3 linked regions of the Homo sapiens genome follow. The protein of the gene in region 1 binds, or shares a complex with, the protein of each later gene. Each region holds a gene or a part of one and is shown on either strand. Other genes may lie near its edges.

Region 1 (11,508 bases):
TTGAAACTGAGAAATGTCCTAAGTCCAACATGGTTTAGCTAGCTGTGGGCAATTTCAGAGTAGACTTGGGAACAAAGTGCTGTCCCATCCCACAGCCATGTCCTCTCCCCATTACTATCTGCCTCCCATCAGCTATTGACATCTTGGGCTGCCACGTCCTCCTGCTGAATCAACAGAAATGGCCCACTTAACACCAATGTCACCACTGGGAATTCCAGCCATGGGCAAGTATCCTGCCAAATATCTGCCATGCTCCCAGGGTGTTCACCACCTACGTCAACTCAACAGGTACAGTCAGGGTGGCAAGCAGTGGCCAAAAGCCTGGTTCCCTGTGTAACAGTTAATCCAGGCAATATGCCATCTTTCCTGAGTGAAGAAACACAACGATGTGACATATATTAAATCACAATCGATCCACTCTACAATAGCATATCAGAAAGCATTGTTTTCAGCAGTCTGGAGGCAGTGGAGTATGACAAAGAACATAGTTTTGAAATCAGATTTGGGTTCATGTTCTAGCTCTGCCACTTATGTGCTGTGAGAATTTTAGTTAAGTTAATTACTCCTTAAGTTTTCCTTCTAAAATAAAAATGGGATGAAACTAGTATCTAAAAGTATGGCCTGGATTCTAAATCCAGCTCCTGAATTCTTTGGCCATGTGAATCTAGGCAAGTTACTTAATCTCATTATGCTTACATTTCCTATCTATGAAACGGCAACTATAGTATCAACCTTGTAAGACTGTTCACAGGGTTCACTGGAAACATGTAAAGTACTTGGAACATAGTAAGTGCTCAATAAGCACCAACATTATCACTACTACTATCTGGGCAACTACCACTACCACCAGCAACTCCTACCTCATCAAACTGTTATGATAAAATGAGACAACAAATTTTAAAAGTTTAGAATAGTTCTTGGTACTTGTATTAACATCTCCATAATGGAAGGCTATTATTTGTAAAAGATATTATCCCAGTTAATTCTCACTGAAAACCCTGTGATGTAGGAGCTATTCGTATGATTCCTACTCTGCAGAGATAAAGCACAAGACTCAGAAATTAAGTAACTTGCTCAAGGTCACACAGTAAGAAGTCTAAATAAAGTGGAAGGTAACTATGGAACTGTGGGAAATGAGACTGAACTGGATGAATGGAAACTGGTCATGCAGAATCCTTAAAAATCAGGTAGAGGGGTCTGCACTTGATTTGTAATGTGCAACAGAGACCTCTGTATGTTCTTAAACCAGGAGTGTGGCGAGATGATCCAAATGATGACCCAAGACTTCAAAAGCATGGGCCAGATAGGTGACTTCCGAGTCAATAAATAAAGCAAAACTAACAGTGGTTCACAAAGAGATAGACCTCGGCCTTAGGTCATCAGCACAGTGATGTCAGCACTATAATCAAATCAGCTCTGTGAAGCTTACCAAATGCTACCAGTGATTCAAGCTACGATTTCACAAAAGTGCTGCTTTGCCCAAATGACCACAAACACACTGAAGTCACAAAGAGTATCATATTTGAAAGGAATCTAACACAGGAAGGACAATGCATAATTAGTGCATGTGACAGAGTTCATTTAAAATTGAAAATGACAAATCAAACCACATGTCATCTTTGCCTGCTTAATCAGGAAATCTGCCCACTGGCTTCCTCCTATCTTTGCTTGAAATTGAGTTATAACTCCCTGTGCTCTCCAAAATATGAGGCATTAAAACATCCCTTCCTGGAATACTTGACTCGAGAAAAAATATGAATGTTTTTTCTCTTCAGGGCCAATGGATCCATCGCAGGTGCACTGTTACAACTTTATTTCCAAATAATGGCCCCTTCTCTGTCATTCAGAATATTCCACGTCGTGGGAAATTTGTCCTTGGCCATTCCAAGTTACTACCCCACTAAACAAGTCAATAGTGTAATGCAAGAATCCAAAGAACACCCTCTGCCTCTTCTAGAACGAATATAAAGGAGGAAAACCCTCTTTCACATAAGTTTTAATGAATCTGTGTTTTGGGATCAAGAGAACCAATTGATGTTTACACAGGTACTCTGTGTAACAGACTCTGGCTGACAGAAGCTGATTTATTCATTGATTTTATCAGGAAGATAAATTTTTTTAAAACCCAGCTAAATATTCACAGAATAAATGCCAATCAATGTATGCTAGGCCTTTCCTTATTTAATAAAATGTCAAGAGGTACTTTATCTACCTTTTATGAAGTCCTAAACGAGCTGTATGTATTGGGGAATTTTTTTAAAGGCAGTTTTTATCTTTGAGAAGTTACTGTAACCACCACTAAACGACAGGTTGTTGGCAACAGGATATGGTGAAACCAGACAGACATCAACTTAATCAAGTTATCCAATTTCACAGCACCAATGATGTGACGCATGAGAAAGACACATCCCTCAGAGCAATCCAGCCCCAAGATGTTTAATTCAAATCTATCCATGAGGATATAATCAGAGAATTCCAAATTGAGGAACAGTCTTCAAAACAACTGGGTTAAATTTAGACTCTTCAAATATCAATGTCATCTGTCACAGTGCCAATGTCACAAAAAGAAGCTAAGGAAACTTCCAGAGGAAAGGAAATTAAAGAAACATGACAACTAAATGCAATGTGTAGTTCTTCACTGGATCCTGAATTGGGAGGAAAAAGAACACTATTATGGCAACTGAAGAAATGTGAGTTTACATTGTATCTTAATAATAGTAGATTATCATCGCTAAGTTTCCTGAGTGTGATAAGGCGACTGTAGCTACATAGAATGCCCTTTTTCAAGAAGGGGTGAAATGATCTGCTATCTACAACTCTCTAATGGTTCAGTAAAGTAAGTGTGTGCACCTGTGTATGGAGAGAAAGCTCATGCCTGTGCAAAAGAAATAAGGGAATGCCAGGCATTGTGGCTCACACCTGTCATCCCAGCTACTCCGGGCTGAGACAGGAGGATCACTTCGTCCCGGAGTTTGAATCCAGCCTGGGCTCAAGTGTCTCTAATCAAAAACAAGAAAGGAAGAAAGAAAGGAAGGAAGGAAGGGAAGGAGGGAGGAAGGAAGGAAGGGAGGGAGGGAGGGAGGAGGGAGGGAAAAGAAAAAAGAAAAGAGAAAAAGGAAAAGGCAGCAAATATCAGAATCAAAATGTTAACAAGTGGTGACTCTAGGTAACGCGTATACAGGTATTTGTGGCATTCTTTTTATTTTTAGTTTTTTTTTGAGAAGGAGTCTCGCTCTGTCTCCCAGGCTGGAGTGCAATGGTGCGATCTCGGCTCGCTGCAAGCTCCGCCTCCCAGGTTCATGCCATTCTCCTGCCTCAGCCTCCCAAGCAGCTGGGACTACAGGCACCCGCCATCAGCCCGGCTAATTTTTTGTATTTTTGGTAGAGACGGGGTTTCACTGTGTTAGCCAGGATGGTCTCGATCTCCTGACCTCGTGATCCGCCCGCCTCGGCCTCCCAAAGTGCTGGGATTACAGGAGTGAGCCACTGGGCATGGCTTTTTTTTTTTTTTTTTTTTTTTTTTTTTTTTTTTTGAGACGGAGTCTCACTCTGTCACCCAGGCTGGAGTGCAGTGGCGCGATCTCGGCTCACTGCAAGCTCCGCCTCCCGGGTTCACGCCATTCTCCTGCCTCAGCCTCTGGAGTAGCTGGGACTACAGGCGCCAGCCACCACGCCCGGCTCATTTTTTTAGTACAGACGGGATTTCACCATGTTAGCCAGGATGGTCTCGATCTCCTGACCTTATGATCCGCCCGCCTCGGCCTCCCAAAGTGCTGGGATTACAGGCCTCAGCCACTGCGCCCGGCCCCCCCACCTTTTTTTTTTTTTGAGACAAGAGTTTCGCTCTTGTTGCCCAGGCTGGAGTGCAATGGCATGATCTCAGCTCACCATAACCTCCACTTCCCGAGTTCAAGCGATTCTCCTGCCTCAGCCTCCCAAGTAGCTGGTATTACAGGCATGAGCCACCACACCTGGCTAATTTTGTATTTTTAGTAGAGACGGGGTTTCTCCATGTTGGTCAGGCTGGTCTCAAACTCCTGACCTCAGGTGATCTGACCGCTTTGCCCTCCCAAAGTACTGGGATTACAGGCGTGAGCCACCATACCAGGCATCTAAAAGTTTTTTAGAGCTATTAGAACTTAATAGACACATCTAGCAATTATAAACGTAGAAGCTGTTGATCTCTACAAAGCAGGAACTGTCTGCTCTACAGCTAACACTTTAGTATTATGTAATATATTCACATGCAATCAGACTTCTAGAAACTGCTTACCTATACAAAACTTCATATTCTCCTGTAGGACTTAGAATAGTACTCATTTTACGCCAGGCGCAGTGGCTCACACCTGTAATCCCGGCACTTTGGGAGGCCAAGTCGGGCGCATCACGAGATCAGGAGATCAAGACCATCCTGGCTAACACGGTGAAACCCCGTCTCTACTAAAAATACAAAAAATTAGCCGGGCGTAGTGGCGGGCGCCTGTAATCCCAGCTACTCAGGAGGCTGAGGCAGGAGAATGGCGTGAACCCGGGAGGCGGAGCTTACAGTGTGCCGAGATGGGGCTACTGCACTCCAGCCTGGGCGACAGAGCGAGACTCCATCTCAAAAAAAAAAAAAAAAAGAAAGAAAGAAAGAATAGTACTCATTTTATTGACATGTGTTTAAAGCAAATACTCTAAGTGCATTTTAAAGACTGTCTAGAAAAAAGTCCAGGGACTTGTGCACACAGAGGAGAGACCATGTGAGAACATATCAAGAAGTTTGCAATCTGCAAGCTCAGGCAAGAGGCCTCAAAAGAAACCAAACCTGCTACACCTTGATCCAGTCTCCCGAACTGTCAGAAAACAAGTGTTTGCTGTCTAAGCCACCCAGTGTCTGGTGCTTTCTAAAAGCAGCCTGGCAAATTAACATAGCAATGCTTGAGTAAAAAAAAAAACAAAACAACTGTCTAAATCTATACTACAGGCAGGCAGTTACTTAATTTCCTTAAGTAATGAATTAGATGACTGAAGCTGACTTTCCATTTGACACTTCTTGTAAAATTTGCTTAAAATGGTGAGTCAAGTGGATGTAAACAACTACTTGAGGAAACTGAATTCCAAATAAACAGAACAAAATGATCTCTTGGTGGACTTTCCTTAGAAGCAAACACATACACAAATGGCACATGCAAACAGTGCCTTTTTTTTTTTTTTTTTTTTTGAGACGGAGTCTTGCTCTGTCGCCCAGGCTGGAGTGCAGTGGCGCGATCTCAGCTCACCGCAAACTCCGCCACCCGGGTTCATGCCATTCTCCTGCCTCAGCCTCCCAAGTAGCTGGGACTACGGGCACCCACCACCACGCCCGGCTAATTTTTTGTATTTTTAGTAGAGATGGGGTTTCACTGTGTTAGCCAGGATGGTCTTGATCTCCTGACCTTGTGATCCACCCACCTCGGCCTCCCAAAGTGCTGGGATTACAGGCGTGAGCCACTGTGCCCGGCCAAACAGTGCCTATTAATTGCCACACAGTCAACTCTTACACAGGCAATGACGAAAATAATTGCTCAAATTCTCCTATGCCCAACCTATGCTATCAAGTCATGCTCTGAAAACCTAAACTCTGGTACAAGCAAACGGAGCAGCTTCTGAAGTCAATGAACAACTTAACTTGTAGCATTCTCTTGGGAGCTAGCAAATGAGTATCCTCTTTCCAGTCCTGTTACTGAGTTGTTATAGTACCTATTACCCACCTTTTCTAAATATGAGTATTTCCAGCTGTAAAAGGAAAGAAATCCTGACACTACCTCAAAAAGATGGTACAGAGGATAATGTCTATTTTCCCAATTATATATATTACGTTCAAGAATAAAAGAGTGGATACAAACTTTTCCAGCCATATAAATGATCATTTATAGACAAAGCCAAATAGCAAATACCTTATAGATAGAAATACCTAATTTTGCTATATAAATATTTTGCATGGTGGCGCATGCCTGTAGTCCCAGCTAGTCAGGAGGCTGAGGCAGAAGAATCGCTCGAATCCAGGAAGTGGAGATTGCAGTGAGCTGAGATTGCACCACTGCACTCTAGCCTAGGTGATGGAGTGAGACTCCATCTCAAAAAAAAAAAAAAATTGTATGCTTTTACTTGACGAAAATACATTTCCAAGTAATGGTCAAGAAATTTTTATTTTTAAATTGTCAATCAAATAAAGCATAAATATTCCTCCCCTTAAATAAATTTCTGGGCCAGCGCGGTGGCTCATGCCTGTAATCCCAGCACTTTCGGAGGCCGAGGCGGTAGAATCACCTGAGCTCAGGAGTTCAAGACCAGCCTGGCCAACATGATGAAACCCCATCTCTACTGAAAATACAAAAATTAGCCAGGCAGCTACCCAGTAGGCTCAGGCAGGAGGACTGCTTGAACTCGGGAGGCGGAGGTTGCAGTCAGCCGAGATTGCGCCATTGCACTCCAGCCTGGGTGACAAGAGCGAAACTCCATCTCAAAAAAAAAAGAAGAAATTTCAGGTATTATTATTATTATTATTATTATTATTATTATGTATTAGTTACTTAGTAGGTATTTCCTCAATCAGAATTTTAAAAAGTAGCAAAAACTTAGGGGAGCTGTTCATTGTGCCTCCTCACTTCAGGTTCTGGGAGTGTCTGATAGAGGTACAATATACAGGCATCCCCTGGTATTCACTGGAGATTGGTCCCAGGACCCCCACATATACTAAAATCCAAACATGCTTGTGTCCCAGAGAGCCTTGCAGAACCAGCAGCTAGGAAGCCAGCTCTCCACATACGTGGGTATATTCTCATCCCTCAAATACTATATTTTCATTCTCTGTGTTTGGTTGCAGATGTGGAACCTGCAGATATGGAGGGCCAACTGCATTTATTTTTTAAAATCTGCGTATAAGGAGATCCATGAAGTTCAAGCTCGTGTTGTTCAAGGGTCAACTGTATCTGCAACTCAAGGTTCTGCTAAAGATCCTAAGGAGCAGACTTCCAAAGGTCACGCCTCCTGTTGAAGACCAGGTGAGGACCAGAAGTTAGGCTTCCAGACCTTTCCACTCCAGGGCCCTTCCACTCCCAAATCACATGTCTATCTCAGGAAACCTCATTTTCCCATGAATTACTGGCTGCAAAATTCTTGATTGGTTACAGGAAGTCACTGACTACTTGGCAGAAGGGGACAGGCTGTTACAAGAACAAAACCCCGTGATTCAAACCATTTCACTTAGGAAAATCAGAAAATATACACGCCTAGCAACTAGGATGCTAGCTAATGAATTTATACAGTCGGCTTTCCTTAGCCTCAGGTTCCACATCCTTAGATTCAACCAACCTCAAATGAAAAACATGCAAAAAACATTTTTTTTTCTTTTTCTTTTTTTCTTTTTTTTTGAGACGGGGTCTCGCTCTATCGCCCAGGCTGGAGTGCAGTGGTGCGATCTTGGCTCACTGCAAGCTCCACCTCCCGGGTTCACGCCATTCTCCTGCCTCAGCCTCCCGATAGTAGCTGGGACTACGGGCGCCCGCCACAGCGCCCAGCTAATTTTTTCTATTTTTAGTAGAGAAGGGGTTTCACTGTGTTAGCCAGGATGGTCTCGATCTCCTGACCTCATGATCCGCCCCACTCAGCCTCCCAAAGTGCTGGGATTACAGGCATGAGCACCGGGCTGCAAAAAAAAATTTTAAGAAAATGCTACATTGTTGCTGACATGTACTATGTAGTTAGGCCTAGGATGGCTGCCTCTACACTGAACATGGATAGACTGCTTTTTGTCATTATTCCCTAAACAACACAGTACAACTACTATTTACACAGCCTTTACATTGCATCAGATATGACAAGTTGGTTGATAATCAAACAGTTTTTCCTCTGCTCTCACTCGACAACAATCAATACAGAAGACTTCTGTGACCAGATGTGTGGGGTTTTCTCTCTACCAATAAACAAGCAATCAATTCTGCAGCCAACACCAGCTGGGTACCCTCCAATCCAATTCATTTCAGACACTATCTGAAAACAGTGTGAGATTCCACAGGCTGAGGGCTCAGTCCCAGAAGACTGCCCCTACTTCAGACAGCAGTCACACAAGTCAGGGCCTCCAGAACTTCTCAACGGCGGGCTTCAAGCTGCAGTTCCCAAGACCTCCTCTTTAGGCTTCATTAATTTGCTAGAATGGCTCACAAAACACCTACTTAGGTTTACTGGTTTATTTAAAGGATATTACCAAGCATACAGATGAAGTGGTGCACAGGGTGAGGGATAGAGAGGGGGCGCAGAGCTCTATGCCCTCCCCAGGCATACCACCCTCCAGAAACTTCCACCTGTTAGACTATCCAGAAGTTCTCTTGGGCGTTTTGTAGAGATTTCATTAGAGAGATGATTGAAGCATGGCCAACCTCACAGTAATTGACTGGACAGAGAGTGTGATCTAATACTAAGACTGAGTGCAGACACCCAGCAAGGCCCATCCAGATTCTCCCTGGCCTCTGTGTGTGGTATTCCTTCCTACTGGGTAAGGGGCAGGACCCCCTCTGAAACAATCAGACGAGATAGGTCAGAGAATTTCTTTACAACCAGCTCTAAGACAGAAAGGCAGGGGATGATTAGAGGGCAAGAGACAGACAGAGCTTCTGTTTTCTGAGGCCTGCTTCTGAGGCTTAGAGTGCCCCAACATTCTAACAAAAGACTGTCTTTCACCTTTACTGCTCTGAAGCTGTCCCAAGGCCGCTTCAGGAACCTTGGACAAAGGACAAATACTTTAACAAAAGTTATGCTTACTGTTTTAGTCATTTAGGAAGTAATAAAGGCTATGGTAGTTATGAGCCAGGAACCATGGACAAAAACCGGTATTACATGTCATGGTATCATAATAAGTCATCTAGAGATGATTTAAAGTATATGGGAGAATGTGCATAGATTATATGCAAATACTACACCGTTTTATATCAGGGACTTGAGCATCTGTGAATTTTGGTATACGCAGGGGGTCCCAGAACCAATCCCCCAAAGACGCTGAGAGATGACTATATTTATGAAGCTAATAAAGTATTGTTATATTACTTTATTGAACAAGTATTTGCTGAATGCCTACTGTGTGCCAGATGCAATGCTAAGCACTAGGTGAACAGACACTGGTCCCCACCCTCCAAACAAGTAAACATACATTTATTATTGCAACTTGTAATTATTTGAGGGAAAGTAAATCAAGGTACTATGAAAGACAAAAAGAACTTATGTTAGTTAGACTTACTGAAGACGAAAGGCAACTTTGAAAAGGGACACAACCTTCAAGAACAGGTGGCCAGGTGTGGTGGCTCACGCCTGTAATCCCAGCACTTTGGGAGGCTGAGGCAGGCAAATCACCTGAGGTCAGGAATTCAAGACCAGTCTGGCCAACATGGAAACCCCGTCTCTACTAAAAATACATAAATTAGCTGGGCGTGGTGGCACACGCCTGTAATCCCAGCTACTTGGTAGGCTGAGGCAGGAGAATCTTGAACCCTGGAGGCACAGGTTGCAGTGAGCTGACATTGCGCCACTGTACTACAGCCTGGGTGACAGAGCAAGACTCCATCTCAAAAGCGAACTAAAAAAAGAACAATAAAAAGAAGAGAACAGGACGAGGGCGAGGAGGAAAGTATACCAGACAGAGGGTACCACAACGCAATGGTCCTCAGGAAGTGCTTAGAAGGTTAGAGGAGAAGGAAATACCTGTCAGTGGAAAGTGTGTGTCTGGGAGGTTGGGAGAGTGGCAAGTGGTAAGGCTGGGGAGTAGGTGAGGTTTTACAGGGTCTTGCAGGTCCTGGTAAGAGATGGAGATTTTCTCTAAGTACAATGGAAAGTCAATGAAGGGTTTTACCCAGGAGCGACATGTTCCAATCATTACTTAAGATCACTCCAGTTGCCATGTGGAGAACAGAATGGAGGCTGGGGAAGAGTGAACACTCAAAGGCTATTGCTTAATCCAGCCCAGAGGTGATGGACTACAAAGCTAACATTGGAGATGGTGAAAAGTAACTGCATTCAAAATATATTCTAGGGTGGAAACAACAGGACCACTGATGGACTGGATTTAGGGAGTGAAGAGAGAGGGCTAGATTTTTGGTCTATGCAATTGGATAGATGATGAGAAGAAGGTTAGAAACATACCTTTGAGAACCATCAGCACATAGATGGGTGAAATGACAGAGTGTGGAGAGAAAGGGTCCCAGGACTGAGCCCTAAGATACCACTCAACACTTAGACATCAAGCAAGAGAGGAACGGGACCCAGGGAAGGACACTGAAGTAGTCCTTGATGTAGGAGGAAATACGCAAAGGAACATACATCACAAGAAAAGGAAAGTTTCTAGAGTTTCTGTATTAACCACTGCTGAGAGATCAAGAAAGTTGAGGCCAGAAAATCAACCTCTGAATTTGACAAGATGGAGGGATCAGGTTTTTTTTTTTTTTTTTTTTGAGACAGTCTTGCCCTGTCACCTAGGCTGGAGTGCAGTGGCACAATTTGGTTCACTGCAACCCCTGCCTCCCGAGTTCAAGCGATTCTCCTGCCTCAGCCTCCTGAGTTACTGGGATTACAGGCGCCCACCACTACACCCAGTTAATTTTTGTATTTTTAGTAGAGAGGAGGTTATGCCATGTTGGCCAGGCTGGTCTCAAACTCCTGACCTCAGGGGATTCGCCCACTTCGGCCTCCTAAAGTGCTGCGATTATAGGCATGAGCCACCACGCCCCGCTGGTTCAGGTAATCTTAACAGTCATTCCCGTAGACCAGTGAGGATGAAAGCCCAACAGAATGGCTGAGAGAATGAGGGGCTAATCAGCACTTTCAAGAAGTTTTGTTGGGATGGGAAGCAGAAATGGAGTAAGAGGGGGACATGTATGTGGGGACGGAGGATTTTCTAAGATGAATTCTCTAAAGCAGGGTTGTATGCTCACAGGAAATGCTCTAGTAAAGAGGGAAAAATTAGTAATGATGGCTTGGACTAGAGTAAATTATATGAATAGTTTTTTAGGTTGCAGATGAAATCCCATCAGTGGGTTGCAAAATTAATTCAGTGGTTCAATTTTTTTTTTTTTTTTTTTTTAAGACAGAGCCTTACACTGTCACTCTGGCAGGAGTGTAGTGGCTCTATCTCAGCTCATTGCAGCCTCCTGGGATCAAGTGATCCTCCCATCTCAGCCTCGTAAGTAGCTGAGACTACAGGCATGAACCACCACACCCAGCTAACTTCTTAATTTTTTGCAGAGACAGGGTCTCCCTATGTTGCCCAGGCTGGTCTCCACCTCCCAGGTTCAAGTGATCCTTCTGCCTAAGCTTCCCAAAGTGCTGGGATTGCTGGTGTGAGCCACCACGGTTGGCCCCATTCATATTAATAAAAAATAGACAATATGAGAGTGTACGCCACACATTATTGTTTCATGAGCCTTTCATTTCAGTTACACAGACATATTGTGTTTAAAAAAAAATCGGAAGAGGCCAGGTGAAGTGGCTCACGCCTGCAAT
Region 2 (11,508 bases), on another chromosome or scaffold:
CCCATAAAATATTCCACCCCCCGATTTTCCTATGAGTTGTCACAGAGCCCAGTCATCAGGGTTTCATTCTCCACATTGTCACTCTGAGCATTTCAGGAAGCAAGAATGAGTCCAGTTGAATGAAGAATGTTGGGCTTTGGGGAGGAAGTGCAGCCTTAGCCCCCAGTGACATTGCAATGGAATTTATCAGTGAAGCCATTCTCCATCTGTCCAGAAACAAACAAGCAAGACTGTCTAAAAACCCACCAAGTGGTGCCGATGCTCTAAATCTCCCTTACTTTCCCTCATCACCAAAACATCCTTTTCCTAAGAGCATTTCAGTTTGGCTTTAGTAGCAGTTAGGTTAAAGAGTTCTACGCCAAGGCCTCATCTGAATGACTGATTTGTTTTTTAAGTCTACTAGCCTTGTTGGATTTCCAAGGGCTCTGGATGTGGAGATTTGGGGTCCGATGAATCTTTTCTTAAACCTTTCCCATCAATTTTCTAGCTCAGGAGTTGGCAAACTTTTTCTATAAAGTGCCAGACAGTATATGTTTTAGGCTTTGTGAGCCATATGATTTCTGTCACAACTACACTGTCATTTTAGCAAGAAGCAGCCATGGATGATGATACATAAACAAATGGCTACAGCCATGTTCCAACAAAACTTTGGTTATAAAAACAAGCTGTGGAGCAGATTGCTCACCCCTGTTCTAGCCCAAGGACAAAGGAATGTTGCTGATTTCTAGTTATTTCACTGTGGTGAAGGTCTTCAGCTCTAGGAAAGACAGAGGAAGGGATTCTGGGAGGTTGTAGCAGTGGAAAAAGTTCTTTTCTTCCTCTGATCGCCCTCTCAGCTCTTTCCTTCTGACTGAAAATCATCTTCAGCACCTCTCTTTTACCACCTCTGCCACCACCCACCCACTGCGAGTCCTATTGGCTATAGGTTGTATGCAGGCAGTAGTAGAGCTATCAAAGGATATTAAGAAAGGGAGTGATTATTAATAAATCATGTAATGTTTCTGATTTTAGCTCTTAAAAACAGTTCTTAAATTTGCTGTCCACACCCCCTCCATTTCTATCCCTGGTACTGCATCATGTTCAGGCTCATGGCTTTTACCTGGACAGCTGCAGTAGCATCTTAACTGGTTTCCATGACTCCATCTGTCTCAGAGAAGCCAGCCTGATTTGGGATTACAGTCATGAGCCACCGAGCCTGGCCCCTGATCTGTCTTAAATGCAGGTCTGACCAAGGCACTCTACCACCTACAATTTGTTTATACTGGAGATTCAAGTTCAAACTCCTGGGTTTCCCACACTGAGTCCCTGCATTGTTCACCAGCCTCATCTCCACCACTCTACTTCAAAAGTTAGGTTTCAGGAGGAGCAGATTGTTTTTGGTTTCTGGCCACATCATGCTGTTTCGTGCCACAGGACTCATGTTGTTCCCCTGCTTAGAAGGTTCTTCTTATTCTTTACAGATGACTAACGCATTAGGACTCAACTCTGCCATTGTCTCCAGGAAGTCACTGAACCCCCCCAGGTTGGGCCGCAGCCTGTTCTCCGAGTACCCAATCTGGGAGTTCAGGGTGGCTTTACTTACCTCTATCTTAATGCCAACCAGATGGGTATTGAAGTCACCTGTGTGTTTCCCTTTTAGAATTAATGTTGTTCCCCCAAACACCTATCATAACACCTGGCACAGTACAAGTATTCAGTAAATATTCATAAGCTGGATAAATGACCAGAGCCTCTGGATTGGGCCTTGTAGTCCTACTTTGCCACTTCGTGGGGTCAGGGAACAGGAGTGTGTCACTGTTCATTCAGTATGTAAATCCATTTCCAAGTCATGAGTGTCTGTTTTAAAACAAGGGAATGGGCTGGGCACAGTGGCTCCTGCCAGTAATCCCAGCACTTTGGGAGGCCGAGGTAGGCGGATCACTAGAGGCCAGGAGTTCAAGATCAGCCTGGCCAACATGGCCTAACCCTATCTCTACTAAAATACAAATATCAGCGTGGCATGGTGGCATACACCTGTAATGCTAGCTACTTGGGAGGCTGAGGCACGAGAATCGCATGAACCCGGGAGGCAGAGGTTGCAGTGAGCCGAGATTGTGCCACGGCACACCAGCCTGGGTGACAGAGTGAGACTCTGTCTCTAAATAAATACATAAATAAACAAGGGAATAGCGTCCCTCTCAACTGTGGCTTTCTAGTACTTCCAGAGCCTAGTGGTATAATTATCTGGGTTCTCTTAAGTTCGGACCCAAGGAAATTCAGGAGCATGACAGACATACTTTATTTTACTTTTGATTTGCTATATAAAAACAATACTACTCTAGTCCTTTTATTCATTGGCTGACTTCAGTAAATGTCACTGTTAACTTTTTTTGTTTTTTGTTTTGTTTGTTTTTTGCTTTTCAAGATGGAGTCTTGCTCTGTTGCCCAGGCTGGAGTGCAGTGGTGCGATCTCAGCTCAGCCTTCCATGTAGCCGGGACTACAGGCGCATGCCACTGCACCTGGCTAATTTTTGTATTTTTAGTAGAGACAGGTTTTCGCCATGTTAGCCAGGCTGGTCTCAAACTCTTGACCTCAAATGGACCACCTGCCTTGACCTCCCAAAGTGCTGAGATTACAGGTGTGAGCCACCACGCCCAGCCATTAACTTTATAAATTTTATTTTTCACTGTGCAACAGAATATGCCTATTTAGTCTTTATTTCAACTTTTTATTTATATAAATTATATTTTTATTTTATATATGTAATTTGGATTTATATTGATTTTTAATATAGATTGTTATTCTCAAGCTGCTTTTTAAAAATTCTTTATGCATTGATCATATAACCAAGCCAAGATCTAGCCTACAGGAAATTGTTAGTGATATTTTGAAAAATTTTGAGATTAAAGAGCAGGTTTTGAAAAATTAAGAATGTTAAAGAATGCATCAACATTTGTCATTTGATTTAACATATCTCCAAAATAACTGACTCCTGTTTTCTACTGTCTTAAAAACTAGGGTCAGTTGGATCTCTTAAGGAGCAATACGGGCCTTTTATATAGAATAAAGGACTCTCAGAATGCTGGGTAAGTACTTGTTTTTTTAATTTTAAGAAAATGTTTATTATTTGCAAACGTATGTGTTGGGAATAAAGCTAATACAAAATTACATAAACCTGTCCTGTGTATCATCCCTGCCTCCTATGATATATTCCATTTCCCAGAGGTAACTGCTCTTAATAATTTAGTGTATATCCTTTCTTCTAGCTATATATAAATACACATAGATGATTATATATTTATATATAATCTTTCTCTTTTTTTTTTAACAAAAATGGAATCATGCTATCCATTCTGTTTTGCAATTTGTTTTTTTCACTTACTGTATCTTGGACATCTTTTCATGTTGGTACACACAGCTCTGTCTCATTCTATTTAAGGTAAGCCTTTCTTTTGGTAAATATGTCACTGTGGTGACCTTGTCTGCTAATTTTGTTTAAGTAGTGATGTAGATTATTAGATTATCCTATAGTCCTTACCTTACTAATTTTACTTTATTCCACTACAGTAAAATGAAGGGATCCGATAACCAAGAAAAACTAGTATATCAAATCATAGAGGATGCAGGAAATAAAGGTAAGCATGTGAAAGATGAAGCAGAAAAAAACATTGTCTTTGGAACTAGATATAGGGACCCAGATCTCAGCTTCCCAGGGTAGAACTCAGTGGACAGAGTATACTGAGGAAGGTAATAGAACATACAAATATAACATGCATGTGCTTGAAGGACACCCAAGAGTAAGGCCGTTGTTGCCTTGAAAGAGACAAGAACTAAAGGGCTGTGTCCAGGGATGGAAAAAGACGTCTGAATTCTGAGTCACATGAATGTATTATCTATTCAAAATAAATAAAATTTAAGTTTTTTTTTTAAATCTGTACCTTCTAGCTATATGACCATGGACAAGTTACTTAAACTTTGTGAGCTTCAGTTTCTTTATCTTATCTATAAATTGTGGATGCTGACACCTCTCGTTTTTGCAAGGACCAAAAGGAAAGCTGGTGTGGTGTAGCAGTGTCTTAACAGATGTCCCTCCGCAGCTATAGTTTCTCTTCTACCCGCTTGAAGAACTGTATCTAAATTGCAATCCTAAGTTACAATAATTTGGGATCTATTTGAGTCATTGATATTAGCTGGAAAAATTGAGATGTAATCTGAAATTACATAACTAATTCTTATATTTATTAAAATTAACATTTTTAAAAATAGTCCTATGAGAAAGCCATTCTGCATATTTTTTTAATCTTCCTATCTCATATGCCATTACATTGGGAAGAAAATAAAGCAAAATATTTACATACATTCCCTTTCCATATATAACACTTATTTCCTTCTTTGAAAAAGAAATCATTGCTTCTCACACAGGGCTTTTAGCAGCCATAAGAACCCTAGGCTTCCTTTTCCATCTCACAAATACAATGTTGTATAAATAATGGATTACATGCATGCAGACACTCATCTAAAGAGTGTTTTTGTCCCACTTGAGGATGGCAGTTGACCTTGACCCAAATTTAAGTTTGTATTTCACATTTACAATCTAAAATGAAAGTATCAGAAAACAGAGATAAGGGTACAGATGATAAAATTCCATTGCATCCATGATTTTTCCTTCCATTATAAAAACGTCGTTTTCATAATTTTTTTTTTCTTTTTTTTGAGATGGAGTCTTGCTCTGTTGCCCAGGCTGGAGTGCAATGGTGTGATCTCGGCTCAGTGCAACCTCCGCCTCCCGGGTTCAAACGAGTCTCATGCCTCAGCCTCCCGAGTAGCTAGGACTACAGGTGCATGCCATCAGGCCCGGCTAATTATTTTTGTATTTTTAGTAGGGACAGAGTTTCACCATGTTGGCCAGGCTGGTCTCAAACTCCTGAGCTCAGGTGACCCACCTGCCTCGGCCTCCCTAAGTGCTGGGATTACAGGCATGAGCCACCATGCCCAGCCCTTTCCATAAGTTTTTTAAAAGTTTGCCACACTGGGATTCCAAGAAATTTCTAGTTAGAAATTATAAATCATTATAATAAGTCTTACAAAGCATTATACTTATTTATTGTTTAGCATACTTTTGCTACTTTAGCCAGCATTCTTTACTGTTAGCTTTATACTGCTAGCTTTGGAATGAGACACAAGTTAGAGGAATAACATTAAAAATCCATGAAAACCAGAGTTCAACTTATTTTACTTTACTTTCTTATAGGAATATGGAGCAGAGATATCCGCTATAAAAGTAATTTGCCATTAACAGAAATCAACAAAATTCTGAAGAATCTGGAAAGTAAAAAGCTTATCAAAGCTGTTAAGTCTGTAGCAGTGAGTAGTCCTTTCCTCAGATACCCACTTACATATGTTGCTTCAAGTTTTTATTCTTGAAGTTATGTCATGATTTAGAACAGCTGGTCAAAAAAGACTTAAAAATTTAGCTCATGTTGGATTGGTTTGGAGATGCTGCTTAGACTTGTCCCTACACAGTTAGCTCTTGGTGTCTCACTCACCCACTCAAAAATCTAAAACTACTTTACTGTCTTCAGTGAAGAATCTTTGGAACTGTGAACATTTTTCCTAGATTTTGTGGTGTGTAAGATAATTTACTTTATCCCGACATATTAGCTTTCTCATTCAACAAAGAGTGTTTGCTGTGTGCCAGACACTGTTTTGAGTGCTTGGGATACATTAATGAACAAGTCGTAGAAAGATCCCTGCCTTGGTGGAGCTTCTCTTCTAGTACACGTGTGTTTTTCCTGCTCCTCATCCTGCCCCACCCCTGCTCCAGAGCTGGCTCCCTCGGGGACATCTGCCCCTGACCTCACTGATTTAGACATCAGAGGAACTGAGATTCCCCTAGAATAAAGTTTGCTTCAATACACATTTCATAAGAATTACAGCTATAATTCAAATTTTATAATTTCAGAGCTGTTAGGTCTGTGGCAGTGAGTAGACCTTTCCTCAAATATCCGCTTACATATGTTGCTTCAAGTTTTTATTTTTGAATAAAACAAGAATTATAAGAATTATAACATCACTTATAAGAATTTGATGCTTATTAGTGATTTTATTTATCAGAATAGCATTTCCCTTCCACATTGTTTAATGGATAATTTCAAATATATACAAAGGTAGAAAAAATCATATAATAAAACCCTATCATGTAGCCTCATTTTGTCAGTCCTCCTTCTACATCTTTATGTTTAATAACAGCTCTGCTGAAATATAATTCATCATTCATACTACAGAATTCATTCAACCTTTTAAAGTGTAAAATCTTTGGATTTACAGTCACTGGTTTTTACTATAAGCTAAGAGTTGTGCAACCATCACCGCTGTTCTAATTTTAGAACATTTTCATCACCCCCAAATGTGGCCACTAGTATTTGTTTCCCAGCCTCTCTTTCCATAGGCCCTAAAAACGAATAATTTATTTTCTGCCTTTATTATAGATTTGCCTATTCTGGACAGTTCCTATAAATGGAATAATAGAATATGTAGTCTTTTATGTATGACTACTTTGACTTAGCATGATGTTTTCAAGATTTATCCATATTGTGCTTTATTCCTTCTTATTGCCAATTAAAATTCCATTGTATAGATGTATATCACCTTTTGTTCATTCATCCGTTGGTGAACTTCTGTGTCCTTTTAAGGGTTAAAATAATCTTAGATCTCAGTGTAAAGTGCAAAACTATAAAACTTTTTGAAGAAAACATAGAAAATCTACATGACCTTGGCTTTGTTAATGAATTCTTGGACTATAACTCCAATAGTAGTCTATGAAAGAAAATGTTAATAAGTTGGAGTTTATCAAAATTTTTTGAAAACCTCTGCTTTGCAAGACACATTAAGAGAATGAAAAGACAAGTTACATACTAAAAGATATTTGCAAATCACATATTTGATAAAGGACTTGTCTCCAAAATATACAAAGAACTCCTAAAATTCAGCAATAAGAAAACAACACTTTGGGAGGCCAAGGCGGGTGGATCACCTGAGGTCAGGAGTTCAAGTCTAGCCTCACCAACATGGTGAAACCCTGTCTCTACTAAAAATACAAAATTATCCAGGCGTGGTGGCACATGTCTGTAATCCCAGCTACTTGGGAGGCTGAGGCAGGAGAATTGCTTGAACCCAGGAGGCAGAGGTTGCAGTGAGCAAGATTGCACCATTGTACTCCAGCCTGGGCAACAAAAGCGAAACTCCATCTCAAAAAAAGAAAAAAAAAAAAAAACACACAATGAAAACAAATAATCCAACTAAAAATGAGCAAAAGATCTGAACCTCACCAAAGAAGACATACAGATGGCAGATAAGCATATGAAAAGATGCTCTACATTATTTTTCATTAGAGAACTGCAAATTAAAATAAAATTTAGTATAGTGAGATACCACTACACACCTATTAGAATAGCTAAAATCTAAAAATTGGTAATACCATATGCTGACAAGATACAGACCAAGATGAACACTCATACATTGCTAAGAATGCAAAATTTTCAGTCCTTTTGTTAAAAAACTGGGCAGTTTTTACAAAACTAAACAGAGTCTTACCACATTGTCCAAAGGTCAAGCTCTTAAGTATTTACCCAACTGATTTGAAAACTCATGTCCACATAACTACATGAATATTTATAGCAGCTTTATTCGTAATCAGCAGCTTTATTCATAATCAAAAACTGGAAGCAACCAAGGTATCCTTCAATAGGTGAATGGATAGACAAACCAGAATAGTATTCAGTTATAAAAAGAAATAAGCTATCATGAAAAGATATGAGTAAATCTTAAATGCATATTGCTAAGTAAAAGAAGCCAGTCCGAAAAGGCTACATACTGTATGATTACAACTATATGACATACTGGAAAAGGCAAAACTAGACAGACTAAAAAGATCGGGGTGAGGGCAGGGATGGTAGGGAAAGTTGAATAGGTGAAGCATGAGAAATATTTCTAGGGTGGTGAAATTATTTTGTATGACAGAAGCATTAACCAAATTTGGAAGCCCACCCAAGCTTTGCTGTCCAAAGTTTTTATTAGGGTTTCATTATACAGGCATGATTGATTGAATCCTTGGTCATGTGAGTGAATTCAATCTCCAGCTCCTCTCTTCTCCCAAGAGATTGGACTGATGTCATGTGGCCCAAAGCCCCAACCCTCTAATCATGCGGTTGGTCTTTCCAGCATGGACAACTCCTATCCTGAAACTATTTAGAGTCCTATCAGGAGTCACCTTGTTAGCATAAACCCAGGTGTGATCTAAGGGATTCACCATGAATAACAAGGCCTATTGGGAAATTCCAAAGATGTAGAAGTTATTTCCTAGGAAAAAGGGACAAAGTCTAGCCAAATTTTTTTCTTTTTTTTTTTTTTTGAGACATGGTCTGGCTCTGTCACCCAGACTGGAGTGCAGTGGCACAATCACAGCTCACTGCAGCATCAACCTCCTGGGCTCAAGCCATCCTCCCACCACAGCCTTCCAAGTAGCTGGGACTATAGGCACGTGCCACCATGCTCAGCTAATTTTTGTATTTTTGTAGAGACAGGGTTTTACTATGTTACCCAGGCCTGTCTTGAACTCCTAGACTTAAAGATCTGCCCACCTCAGCCTCCCAAAGTGCTGGGATTACAGGCATAAGCCACCATGCCTGGCCCAAATTCTTCATGTTTACAACCCAGTGAAATTTGGGTTCCTCAGTGTTGGGGTGAGTAGTTACAGACAAACAAGGAAAGTTAGAATGATCCATGTAGTAATGGATTAGACTTGAAAACATCAGTATGGACTCTTGTGTAATTTAATATAAATAATATAGATGGTTATATTTAGAAATATTGAGTATAGCTATGTATATATACAAGGGTTAATATGCGCACATAAATCTCGTGCTGCCAACTGAGAAGGCCTAGAAGTGATGACATCCCGATGGCAATGAACACATCTAGTGCCCAAGTCGTGGTTTCTATCATGCAATAAAATGAACATGTAGAAAATGCTCCTGACGGCTGGGCAGGGTGGTTCATGCCTGTAATCCCAGCACTTTGGGAGGCCAAGGAGGGTGGATCACCTGAGGTCAGGAATTAGAGACCAGCTTGGCCAACATGGTGAAACCCCATCTCTACTGAAAATACAAAAAAATTAGCTGGGCATAGTGACGGGCGCCTGTAATCCCAGCTACTCGGGAGGCTGAGACAGGAGAATCGCTTGAACCTGGGAGGTGGAGGTTGCAGTAAGCTGAGATCGTGTGCCATTGCACTCCAGCCTGGCAACAAGAGCGAAACTCCGTTTCAAAAAAAAAAAGAAAAGAAAATGCTCTTGACATCTTGTAGTGCTAGAAAGTAAGAAAGTGCTACAATAGCTGGACACGGGGGCTCATGCCTGTAATCCCAGCACTTTGGGAGGCTGAGGCGGGAGGATCACGAGGTCAAGAGATCGAGACCATCCTGGCCAACATGGTGACACCCCCGTCTCTGCTAAAAATACAAAAATTAGCTGGGCATGGTGGCACATGCCTGTAGCCCCAGCTACTCGGGAGGCTGAGGCAGGAGAATCACTTGAACCCAAGAGGCAGAGGTTGCAGTGAACCAAGATTGCACCAGTGCACGCCAGCCTGGGCGACAGTGCAAGACCCTGTCTCCAAAAGAAAAAAAAAAGTGCTAAAATACACACACACACGATGGGAGCATAGCAAAGGGATACAGGAACCAAGTGAAAAGCTTCCAATGCCCAAAGCATTCCAAAGCTTCCAGTGTGGGAATAACAATGAAGTATCTGAATGTAAATCAAAGTATAAAATAAATACTCATGAGTCCATAGTGATAGAAATACGGTGTTTGAGAAACTGTCACAACTAAAAGAAGCCTGAGAGAGATGACTAAATGTAGTATGATGTCCTGGATGGAATCCTGGAGCAGAAAAGGAACATTAGGACTAATGAAATCTGAATAAAGTATGGCATTTAGTTAGTAATGATTTATCAATATTAGTTCATTAATTGTGACAAGTGTACCACACTAATCCAAGATGTTAAAAATAGGGGAAACAGCATGATGTATATAGGAGCTCTGTGTACTATCTTTGCAATAATTTTGTACATCTTAAACTGTTCCAAAATATAGGTGTTTTTGTTTTTGGAAATTGTTATCTTATAAACACATGAACTGTGCATGTTCTTTCCTAGGCCTCAAAAAAGAAGGTGTATATGCTCTATAACCTGCAGCCAGACCGGTCTGTGACTGGTGGAGCCTGGTACAGTGACCAGGATTTTGAATCTGAATTTGTAGAGGTGCTTAACCAACAGTGTTTTAAATTCCTACAGTCCAAGGTGAGGTATGATTGAGGAAACATCACTGCAAACCCTCTTGTAAAAAGTTTTTCACAAAGGATTTTAATCTATTTATCATATTTTATAGGAATTAAAAACCTGAAATTGGGAATTTTTACTTAACTAAATATGTTCTGTTGTTGGTTTGACTCAGTATAAAGTGTATTCAGAAAACACACCAATATTCTTATTTACATTTCTTATGTTTCAATCCTTATAGGCAGAAACAGCACGAGAAAGCAAACAGAACCCAATGATACAAAGAAATAGTTCATTTGCCTCATCACATGAAGTGTGGAAATATATCTGCGAATTGGGAATCAGTAAGGTCAGAACTGAATTTCATCTTATTTTTTAAAACTTATTCTTTGTCACATACAATGTATTCCAAACATGTATTTGACCCACATTGTTTTTTTTTTTTGAGATGATAGCTACGAACATTCTGCAGAATCCACTTTGGGAAAATACTGTCCTGTATCTTAGGCAAAGGCAGTCACTGCCATTGGGCATTGTCTGAACTGATACTCAGCTTGGGACACTGATGCTTTTTTTATTTTTTTGGAGGTAGGGTCTCATTTTGTTGCCCAGGCTGGTTTTGAACTTCTGGACTCAAGTGATCCTCCTGCGTTGGCCTCCCAAAGTGCCACTGTACCCTAGCCTTTTGAAATTCTTTTTTTAAGGACACTGATGCTTTTCACAGTGAAGAAATCAAAGTGGCCATTTTGGACATGTCACTTTAATTTCCTGGGCCTCAGATTTCTCATAAAAACTAGGAACTTGGACTATTTGATGTCTAAAGTGCCTTTCTGCTCAAGCATTTTATAAATCTCCAATAAATTCCTGCTAAAGAAATGTTATTTTTTATAAGATTTCTCGATTTTACTTAGGAAGTAAAGATACCAGAAAGTGTCAAACTCAGCATGAGCTTAGAGTTCTGTCCCTGGCACCTCAGTGGTTTGTGCTAACTTGGCCTATTGTTCCTCCTCTTTGTGCTTTAAATTACTCCACCCCAGCATAATGTTTCTCCCATTTCACAGCAGAATTATGACCCTTTACTGTTTTATTTATTTATTTGAGATGGAGTTTGGCTCTTGTTGCCCAGGCTGGAGTACAGTAGTGCGATCTCAGCTCACTGCAACTTCCGTCTCCCGGGTTCAAGCCATTCTC
Region 3 (8,211 bases), on another chromosome or scaffold:
TAAACACAGGTACTGAATGACTAGGAAACAGGAAAGTGTAAGTAAAAAGGAGGGCTAAGTAACTCCAGGTAGAATGAGTGTGTGCTTTGCCAGTTCTAAAACAGTATAATTTCTGCTATTTTTCTTTCTATTGGACAAATAGGAAATTCCCAAAACACCAGACCATGCCCCATCCAGGACCTTCTATTTATATACTGTGAACATCCTGTCAGCTGCCCGAATGTTGTTGCACAGGTGCTACAAGGTAACTCAATCTGGACCTTCTCCCCATTTCCTCCATACGGTCAAGTACCCCTCATGTGCCCACTTCGCCCTGAGCTGCTGAAATAGAACTATGTGCATTCCTTGTCTGTCTTCTCTTTCCTCAGAGCATAGCCAACTTGATAGAAAGGAGGCAATTTGAAACCAAAGAGAATAAGTAAGTAACATTTTCAGTTGAGTTATTTACATCTTTCAAGATCAAGGGCCTCAGGGGAAATTTCCTCTAGAAATAGGAATCAATAGACGCTGGGCCTGGCAGGGTGGCTCATGCCTGTAATCCCAGCACTTCGGGAGGCTGAGGCAGGTGGATCACTTGAGGTCAGGAGTTTGAGACCAACCTGGCCAACATGGTGAAACCCTGTCTTCACTAAAAATACAAAAATTAGCTGGGCATGGTGGCGGGCACCTATAGTCCCAGCTACTCGGGAGGCTAAGGCAGGAGAATCACTTAAACCCAGTGAGTGGAGGTTGCAGTGAACCAAGATCACGCCACTGCACTCCAGCCTGGGCGACAAAGTGAGACTCCATCTCAAAAAAAAAAATTTTTTTTTTGAGAAGTAGGAACCAGTAGAGATAGCAACCAGTCTACTTGCATTGAATCATTGGCTTAGATTAGTGTAAATCATGCATTAGTCTACACTTTTCTAACATGCTCCCAGTGAAATAATTTTTCAGATTAAATTTGTGAGAAACGTACAAAAGCACCAAACTTTTAAGTGCAAATGAGAGGCAATAAGAATTTCAGGAGTGAAGTTATATTTCCAAATAAGTTTGTAGAAAATGTCCTTAGAAGGTGACATTATCTACTTTGATCAGGAAAATGGTAAAGGGTGGTGGGTAGTGCCTCAGACACACGTGGTAAGAGAATCTCCCAGGTTAGGGAAGATGTCTCAGAGTTGTGTTTGTTTGACAGGCGTCTACTAGAAAAATCTCAGAGGGTAGAAGCCATCATTGCATCTATGCAGGCTACTGGTGCAGAGGAAGCACAGTTACAAGAAATAGAGGAGATGATCACAGCTCCTGAACGTCAGCAGCTAGAGACCCTGAAACGTAATGTCAACAAGTAAGCATCATAAACTTCAGACCTGCATTTCAGAATACCATCCAGAAAATCCATTTTGACCTCCTGTAACCCTCCAGCTTAGCATGAGCAAACCTAAACTCACTGTCTCCTCCAGCTCACTTAACAGAATTTAATCCACCTATTTTTGTAAACTAGCAATTCTGAAGATGTTCTGAGCTTCTTCTCCATCACCATATACACTCTCTTGTTCATCAAGTACTGATAAATTTTTTTTAAGAGACGGGGTTTTGGCTGTGTTGCCCAGACTGGCCTTGAACTCGTAGGTTCAAACAGTCTTCCTGCCTCAGCCTCCCAAGTAGCTGGGACTACAGGCAAGTGCCACTGCGCTGGCTTAATTTTACTTGAGTCATGTGTCTCAAATCTGGCCTTTCATCTTGGTCCACACGCAGGCCTTCATCACCTCTTTCCTAGACCTTCACATTTCAGTGCACAATTTGTGCACCTCTTTCATTAAATTTATTTCTTAAGTATTTTTTTGGATACTAGTTTAGTGGTCGCTTATTTCAGTTTTAGATTGTTCATTGCTAGTGTTATACAAAAACAACCAACTTTGGTGTTGTGATTTTGTATCCCACAACTTTACTAAATTCATTTATTAATTCTAGTAGTTTTTTTGCAGATTCTTTGAGATTTTTTATAATAGGATTATGTCATCCATGAATAGAGAGAGTTTTACTTCTGTCTTTTCAATCTAGATGCCTTTACTTTTTTTTTTTCCTGCCCCATTACCCTGGCTAGAACCTCCAGTAAAAGGTTGAATAGAAGTACAAAAGCAGACATCTTTGTTTTGTTTCTGATCTTAGGAGAAAAGCTTTTAGTCTTTCACCATTAAGTATGATGTTAGCTGTGGGTTTTTCCTAGATGGCTTTTGTCAGGCTGAAGAAGCTTCCATTTCTTCCTAATCACCACTCACTTTAAGCTTCAGACACTCTTAGTTTCTTGCTATTTTAAAACACACTAGGTCCTTTTATACCTGTGCCTTTACGTTCGTTTTCCTGATTGCAAATGAAGACTACCTTCCCCCAGGACAGAGGCTCTGTATTTTGTATTCTTAGCAGTTTGCATGGTGTCTGGCACATAAAGATGCTCGGTAAATAGCAAAATGATCTACTGGTTCTCCTGCTTTCTTTCCATCCACTCTCAAGGGTAACCAAGCAGTTATCCATGGCCACACCCACCCTAACCTCTAATCTTAAATATGCTAATGAACATTCAGTCTAGGCAAATGCCTTTACTTTTCACTCAGGTTGGATGCCAGTGAGATCCAGGTGGACGAAACCATCTTCCTGCTGGAGTCTTACATTGAGTGCACCATGAAGAGACAGTGATCCAGAAGAAGCATCTTCCTCAGAAGATCTGGGGGGATGGAAAGCAAAATAAAGGAGGTGCCTGGATGCATTATTTGCAGTGGGATAAGTCGCAGAGTCTTCAACTAAACCCCCCTCTCTATCCCCTGCAGCCCAGGATACACCTGAAAGAATTTGGCATATTTAGATCCATTGCTGTAGTCTCCCCTCATCAAATCTTGGCAGTGGGAAGAACCTTAAATCAACAAGGTTAATCATCTATCAGATGCATCTGTTCCCATAAAGAAGTTACCCACACCTATGGTTACCTATATCCCTGGCAATAGGAAACTTCCTAAGAAGTTAATTTTATTTTCAGATGTCTATGCCTGTTCTTTATTTTGTTGAGATAGGTGATAGATAGATAGATAGATAGATAATTTGTTGTTGTTGAGACAGGATCTCACTCTGTCACTCAGGCTGGGGTGTAATAGCGCAATCACAGCTCCCTACAGCCTTGACCTCCTGAGCTCAAGCAGTCCTTCCACCTCAGCCTCTGGAGTAGCTGGGACTACAGGCATGCACCACACATACCCAGCTATTTTTTATTTATTTATTTATTTTTTTGTAGAGACAGGGCCTCCCTGTGTTGCCCAGGCTGATGAACTGTAATTTTTAACACACACAGTGTAGGGAATGTGAAAGACTATCACAGAGTAGAAGAAAAAATTATTTTCAGGGTTAGCAGGTGGATTGTCCCAAGCAGTCACACTAGAATCTGTGGACTGAAGCCACATTTGCCAGCTCCAGGCTTCTAACACATCTGAAACTGTGTATGTAGAACAGCTAGCTCAATGCCTGGCATATGGTAAGCACACAGTAAATTAGCGCCTTCCTCTTCTCCATGGTTCCTTAAAACTGGCAACGCTAAATTCTCTCTCTCAGTATCACGGATATAATTTGTCCCAGCAGCTTTAATTCATTTAAAGCAGTTAGATGTTTTATAATATCTTCAGTTTTCTCTCACCAATGTGTTTTCTAATTGTTTAAACACTTGAGTGTCAAACAATTGCCAGCCACCATACTAAACACAACATACAAGGATAGATAAATAAGACACCATCTCTGCCCTCAAGCCAGTCACCATCATTTACTAAGCACCTGTTTTGTGCTAAGTACTGGGGTAAGCCTTGGGGATATAAAGATTAATAAATTTTGAGCATACAGTCTAGTAGGAGGAGACAAATAAGTACATAAGTACCAGGAAGTATTAGGGGTGCTACAGTAGAAGAGTAAACACTATGTACAGAGAGGCCAGAAAGGGAAAAGGGTCAGGCAGGGAAGGGAACACAGAGAGTGACAATGTATAGTTTGAAAGATGAGGATGCTTTATTTGCAAACTATCTTAACAAGGGATTCGTAACCAGAATATATAAGGAGCTCAAACAATAGCAAAAAGAACAATCCAACTTAAAAATGGCCAAAAGATCTTAATAGGTAGTTTTCGAAAGAAGATACACAAATGGCCGACAGATACATCAAAAAATGTTCAACATCACTAATCAGAGAAATGGAAATCAAAATCAATGAGATAACATCTCACCCCAATTCATTACTTTTATCAAGAAGAAAGAATGAATGCTAGTGAGGATGTGGAAAAAGGAGAGCCCTGCCTGGTACACTGTTGGGAATGTAAATTGGTACAGCCACTGTGGAAGACTACAGAGGTTCCTCAAAAAACTAAAAACAGAACTATGCTCCAGCAGTTCCACTACTGGGTATATATATATCTCCAAAAGGAAAGAAATCAATGTATCAAAAAGATACCTGCACTCCCATGTTTATTGCAGCAGTATTCACGATAGCCAAAACATGGAATCAACCTAAGTGCCCATCAATAGATGAAAGGCTAAAGAAAATGTATTATTCAGCCATAAGAATGAATGAAATCCTGTCATTGGCAGCAACATGGATGGAATTGGAGGTCATTATGTTAAGTAAAATAAACCAAGCACAGAAACAAATATTGCATGTTCTGTCTCACATAGGAGCTAAAAAAGTGGATCTCAAGAAAATAAAGAATAGATTGGTAGTTACCAGAGGCTAGGAAGGATGGGGAGGATGAAGAGAGGTTGATTAGTGGGCACAGATAATACAGTTTGAAGAAGTAAGACTGGTGTTGGATAGATCAGGGTGGCATAGTTATTAATTTACTGTACATTTCAAAACAGCTAGAAGATAATTTTGATGGTGCCTAAATCCTGTAATCCCAACACACTGGGAGGATCAGTTGAAGCCAGGAGTTCAAGAACAGCCTGGGCAACAGTGAGATTTCATCGTTACAAAAAAATTTAAAAATTAGCCAGGTGTGGGTAGTGCACATCTGTAATCACAGCTACTCAGGAGGCTGAGACGGGAGAAGCGCTTGAACCAGGGAGGTGGAGGTTGCAGTGAGCTGAGATGGCGCCACTGCACTCCAGCCTGGGTGACAGAGCGAGACTCCGTCTCAAAAAAAAAAAAAGGCCGCGCGTGGTGGTGGGCGCCCTGTAATCCCAGCTACTACTTCGGAAGCTAAAGCACGAGAATCGCTTCAACCTGGGAGATGGAGGTTGCAGTGAGCTGGGATCACACCAGTGCACTCCTGTCTGGGCTGTAGAGTGAGACTCTCAAAACAAAACATCACTCTGGCAGCACTGTAGAGAATGAACTGGTAGGGGCAAGACTATTTGGAGACTTGCAATAATATTTCAGGCAAAATACGAGGAAGGCTTAAACTAGGGCAATGAATGAAGGCTGGAGAGAACATGGGTTTGAGGAAGTTTAAGGAGATAGCATCTGCATACTTGGTTGCCATTTGAGTGAAGTGAAAGGAGAAGTGGTATCGAAAATGTTATTTGGTGTGTTTCGCTTGGAGATAATTAATTCGAAGTGATGCCTGCTGTAACAGGTGTGCATAGTGCTGTAGAGGATGCTTACAGTTCAGCTTAGGGCTGGTTGGAAGTAACATGTGGGTCCTGAAGTCATTCGGTCTGGGGGTCATTGTCCTAAACAGAGAAGATAGGAAGGAATAGGAGCTGAGCATTTAGAGGTATTCTTCTTTGTGGTTTAATATTATACCCATGGGTCATCCTCAAAAGATGTGCCCTTATTTCCCCGGGGACTTTCGGAAACCCCGCTACGACCCCGCGGAACGTTCCGAGGGGAAGCTTCTCTAGGCCACCAGAGGGCGCCAGGCGGGCCGCAGCGACTCCAGAGTCGCGTTATGGCCGAGGTGCGGGTGCAGCTGCTCCTGTCCCGGCGTCCGGAGTCGGTGAGCTTCGCACGGAGTGTGTGTGGCCTCCTGGGAGCCGGACCAGGGCTCGGGACGTGGCCCATTCACTGCAGCTTGAAGCGAGGACGGCTTGTCCTCTCGAGCAGGCCCTTCCCAGGCGCCTCCGCTAGGCTTCCGCTCCAGGTCGGCAGAAGGGGGCCCCAGAGCGGGGGCAGTGAAGGGCCAAAGATGGGGACTGAAATCGGGTGGGAACTGGCGGCGAGGACCCCGCCCCCAACGCGCGGTGTAGCCCCATTTTTGGAAGTCACGCCCACCCAGTGCCGCCCTTCTGAAGCCTTAACCCAGCTGGCTTCCTTCTGCCAGCGACCCCCTTTCTGCCCTTTTGCGGCCCTGGAGGAGCGGCCCAGGGTCCCTGGGGCTGAGCTGCCCACAGATCGAGGTGTGGACCTGGGTGTGGCCGTCATTCTGCAGTCCAGCGACAAGACTGTCTTGCTAACCCGAAGGGCACGCACCCTGAGCGTTTCCCCCAACCTCTGGGTACCCCCGGGTGAGTATTCTGGGGACAAGGCCCCAAGTACAGAGAAGAAATTTGCCCTTTCCCCGCAACAATGTTTTTCCCAGTCTCAGAAGGATAAAGTGGGCCCCAAAATGTGGCATGTTCATAGTCACAAGGGACTGCAACTCCCTCTGTGTCCACTGGAGGGGAGAGGAGTGTCAACAGTGAGTGGGGGCTCCCTGGCCAAGACCACCACCATTCACCTACTGGCCCCACTGTTGTTGCAGGTGGGCACGTGGAACTTGAGGAGGAGGTAACCAGTCAGCTGATCCAACCTGAGCCAAGAGACCCATGCCTGGGACCATCTTGGGTGTGGGCTGAGGGAGAGGCAAGCAAAAGGACTTGGAAGAGTCAGGCACTGGCCCCTCTGATGTGTCTTCTCTGACTCCCAGCTGCTGGACGGAGGGCTTCGAGAACTTTGGGAGGAGAGTGGACTACACCTGCCCCAGGGCCAGTTCTCTTGGGTCCCTCTGGGTTTATGGGAGGTGAGACAAGTAGCTGGGAGAAGCTCCTCCATAGATCAGCCCCTACCTGCCTTGGCTACAAGGGAAACAATAGCACATAAGTGGGCTGGAATCCCCAAATCCATAACCCTCACCCATGTCCCTGCTGTGTCATCTGTACCATCCACGCCCTCAGCTTTTGGCCACCATTTTGTTTCACCCTAAAGCTGTATTAACAAAGTCTCAAAAAGTGACACAAAGGGCCGGGTGCGGTGGCTCACGCCTGTAATCCCAACACTTTGGGAGGCTGAGGTGGGCGGATCACCTGAGGTCAGAAGTTTGAGACCAGCCTGGACAACATGGCGAAACCCCGTCTCTACTAAAAATACAAAAATTTTAGCTGGGCGTGGCGGCAGGCGCCTGTAATCCCAGCTACTCTGGAGGCTGAGGCTGGAGAATTGCTTGAACCCAGGAGGCAGAGGTTGCAGTGAGCCAAGATCACGCCATTGCATGCCAGCCTGGGCGACAAGAGCGAAACTCCATCTTAAAAAAAAAAAAAAAGTGACGGAAAGTTCTCACTTTTGCTGTTTTCTTTTCCTAGTCTGCCTACCCTCCTAGGCTGAGCTGGGGTTTACCCAAATACCATCACATTGTTCTGTATCTACTCGTGATCTCCCAGGAATCACAGCAGCAGTTGCAGGTAGGGCTGGCAGTGAGGGAAGGAAACAGGGCTCAGGGGAGCCCAAGCAACCTGGTTCTGACTGTGATTAGGAGCTGGGCGGGGGTGGCGGGGGTAGTCAGAGATAACGAAGAATATGCAATGCCCTTTCCCCTTGCTCCTGCCTTTCTCCATGAAACCTGCGGGTAGGTTTTGATCACGAACAGGCAGCCCAGGGAGAGGCAATGACTGAGGGGTCACCATGTCTGACCCCAGGCCCGGATCCAACCAAACCCAAATGAGGTGAGCGCCCTTATGTGGCTGACACCAGATGTAGCTGCTGCAGTGGCTGCCGCAGAGGATGGGACAGAGACACCCGGACTTCTCCCCCAGGACCTACCACCCTCTGTCCTGTAAGTAAGAGCTTCTCCCTCAGCCTCTAATACACCAACATATTCATGTTGAGAAGTTCAGCGTCTATCCTGTCCTCAGGATGGAATTTTGTGTTGTGGGGGAGATTTAAGGAGAGTGGGTCAGCTGATAATTAAGAAGGTACATGAAATCTAAGACACTGACCATCAAACCCCAAAGATTCTTGCTCTAACTGGCTAGCATTGAAGGTCTAAGTGTCAGTTCTAACACAGGGGCAAGT

The links.
Region 2: CRCP (region 1) and POLR3F share a complex: the UniProt entries of both Homo sapiens proteins name them as parts of the RNA polymerase III complex.
Region 3: CRCP (region 1) and POLR3C share a complex: the UniProt entries of both Homo sapiens proteins name them as parts of the RNA polymerase III complex.

The regions. Positions count from the first base shown.
Region 1 is NC_000007.14:66,116,070-66,127,577, reverse strand, and holds part of CRCP (DNA-directed RNA polymerase III subunit RPC9), read right to left. Parts: intron 1-11,508. UniProt on the Homo sapiens protein: DNA-dependent RNA polymerase catalyzes the transcription of DNA into RNA using the four ribonucleoside triphosphates as substrates.
Region 2 is NC_000020.11:18,469,844-18,481,351, forward strand, and holds part of POLR3F (DNA-directed RNA polymerase III subunit RPC6), read left to right. Parts: intron 1-771; exon of another isoform or gene 772-848; intron 849-1,460; exon of another isoform or gene 1,461-1,522; intron 1,523-2,998; coding exon 2,999-3,066; intron 3,067-3,547; coding exon 3,548-3,615; intron 3,616-5,231; coding exon 5,232-5,344; intron 5,345-10,194; coding exon 10,195-10,338; intron 10,339-10,558; coding exon 10,559-10,666; intron 10,667-11,508. UniProt on the Homo sapiens protein: DNA-dependent RNA polymerase catalyzes the transcription of DNA into RNA using the four ribonucleoside triphosphates as substrates.
Region 3 is NC_000001.11:145,839,748-145,847,958, forward strand, and holds the end of POLR3C (DNA-directed RNA polymerase III subunit RPC3), read left to right. Parts: intron 1-142; coding exon 143-244; intron 245-368; coding exon 369-418; intron 419-1,174; coding exon 1,175-1,324; intron 1,325-2,591; coding exon 2,592-2,673; 3' UTR 2,674-4,655; downstream 4,656-8,211. Other genes in the region: m7GpppN-mRNA hydrolase NUDT17, read left to right, coding at 5,894-6,085, 6,266-6,449, 6,686-6,711, 6,851-6,943, 7,503-7,601, 7,836-7,972. UniProt on the Homo sapiens protein: DNA-dependent RNA polymerase catalyzes the transcription of DNA into RNA using the four ribonucleoside triphosphates as substrates.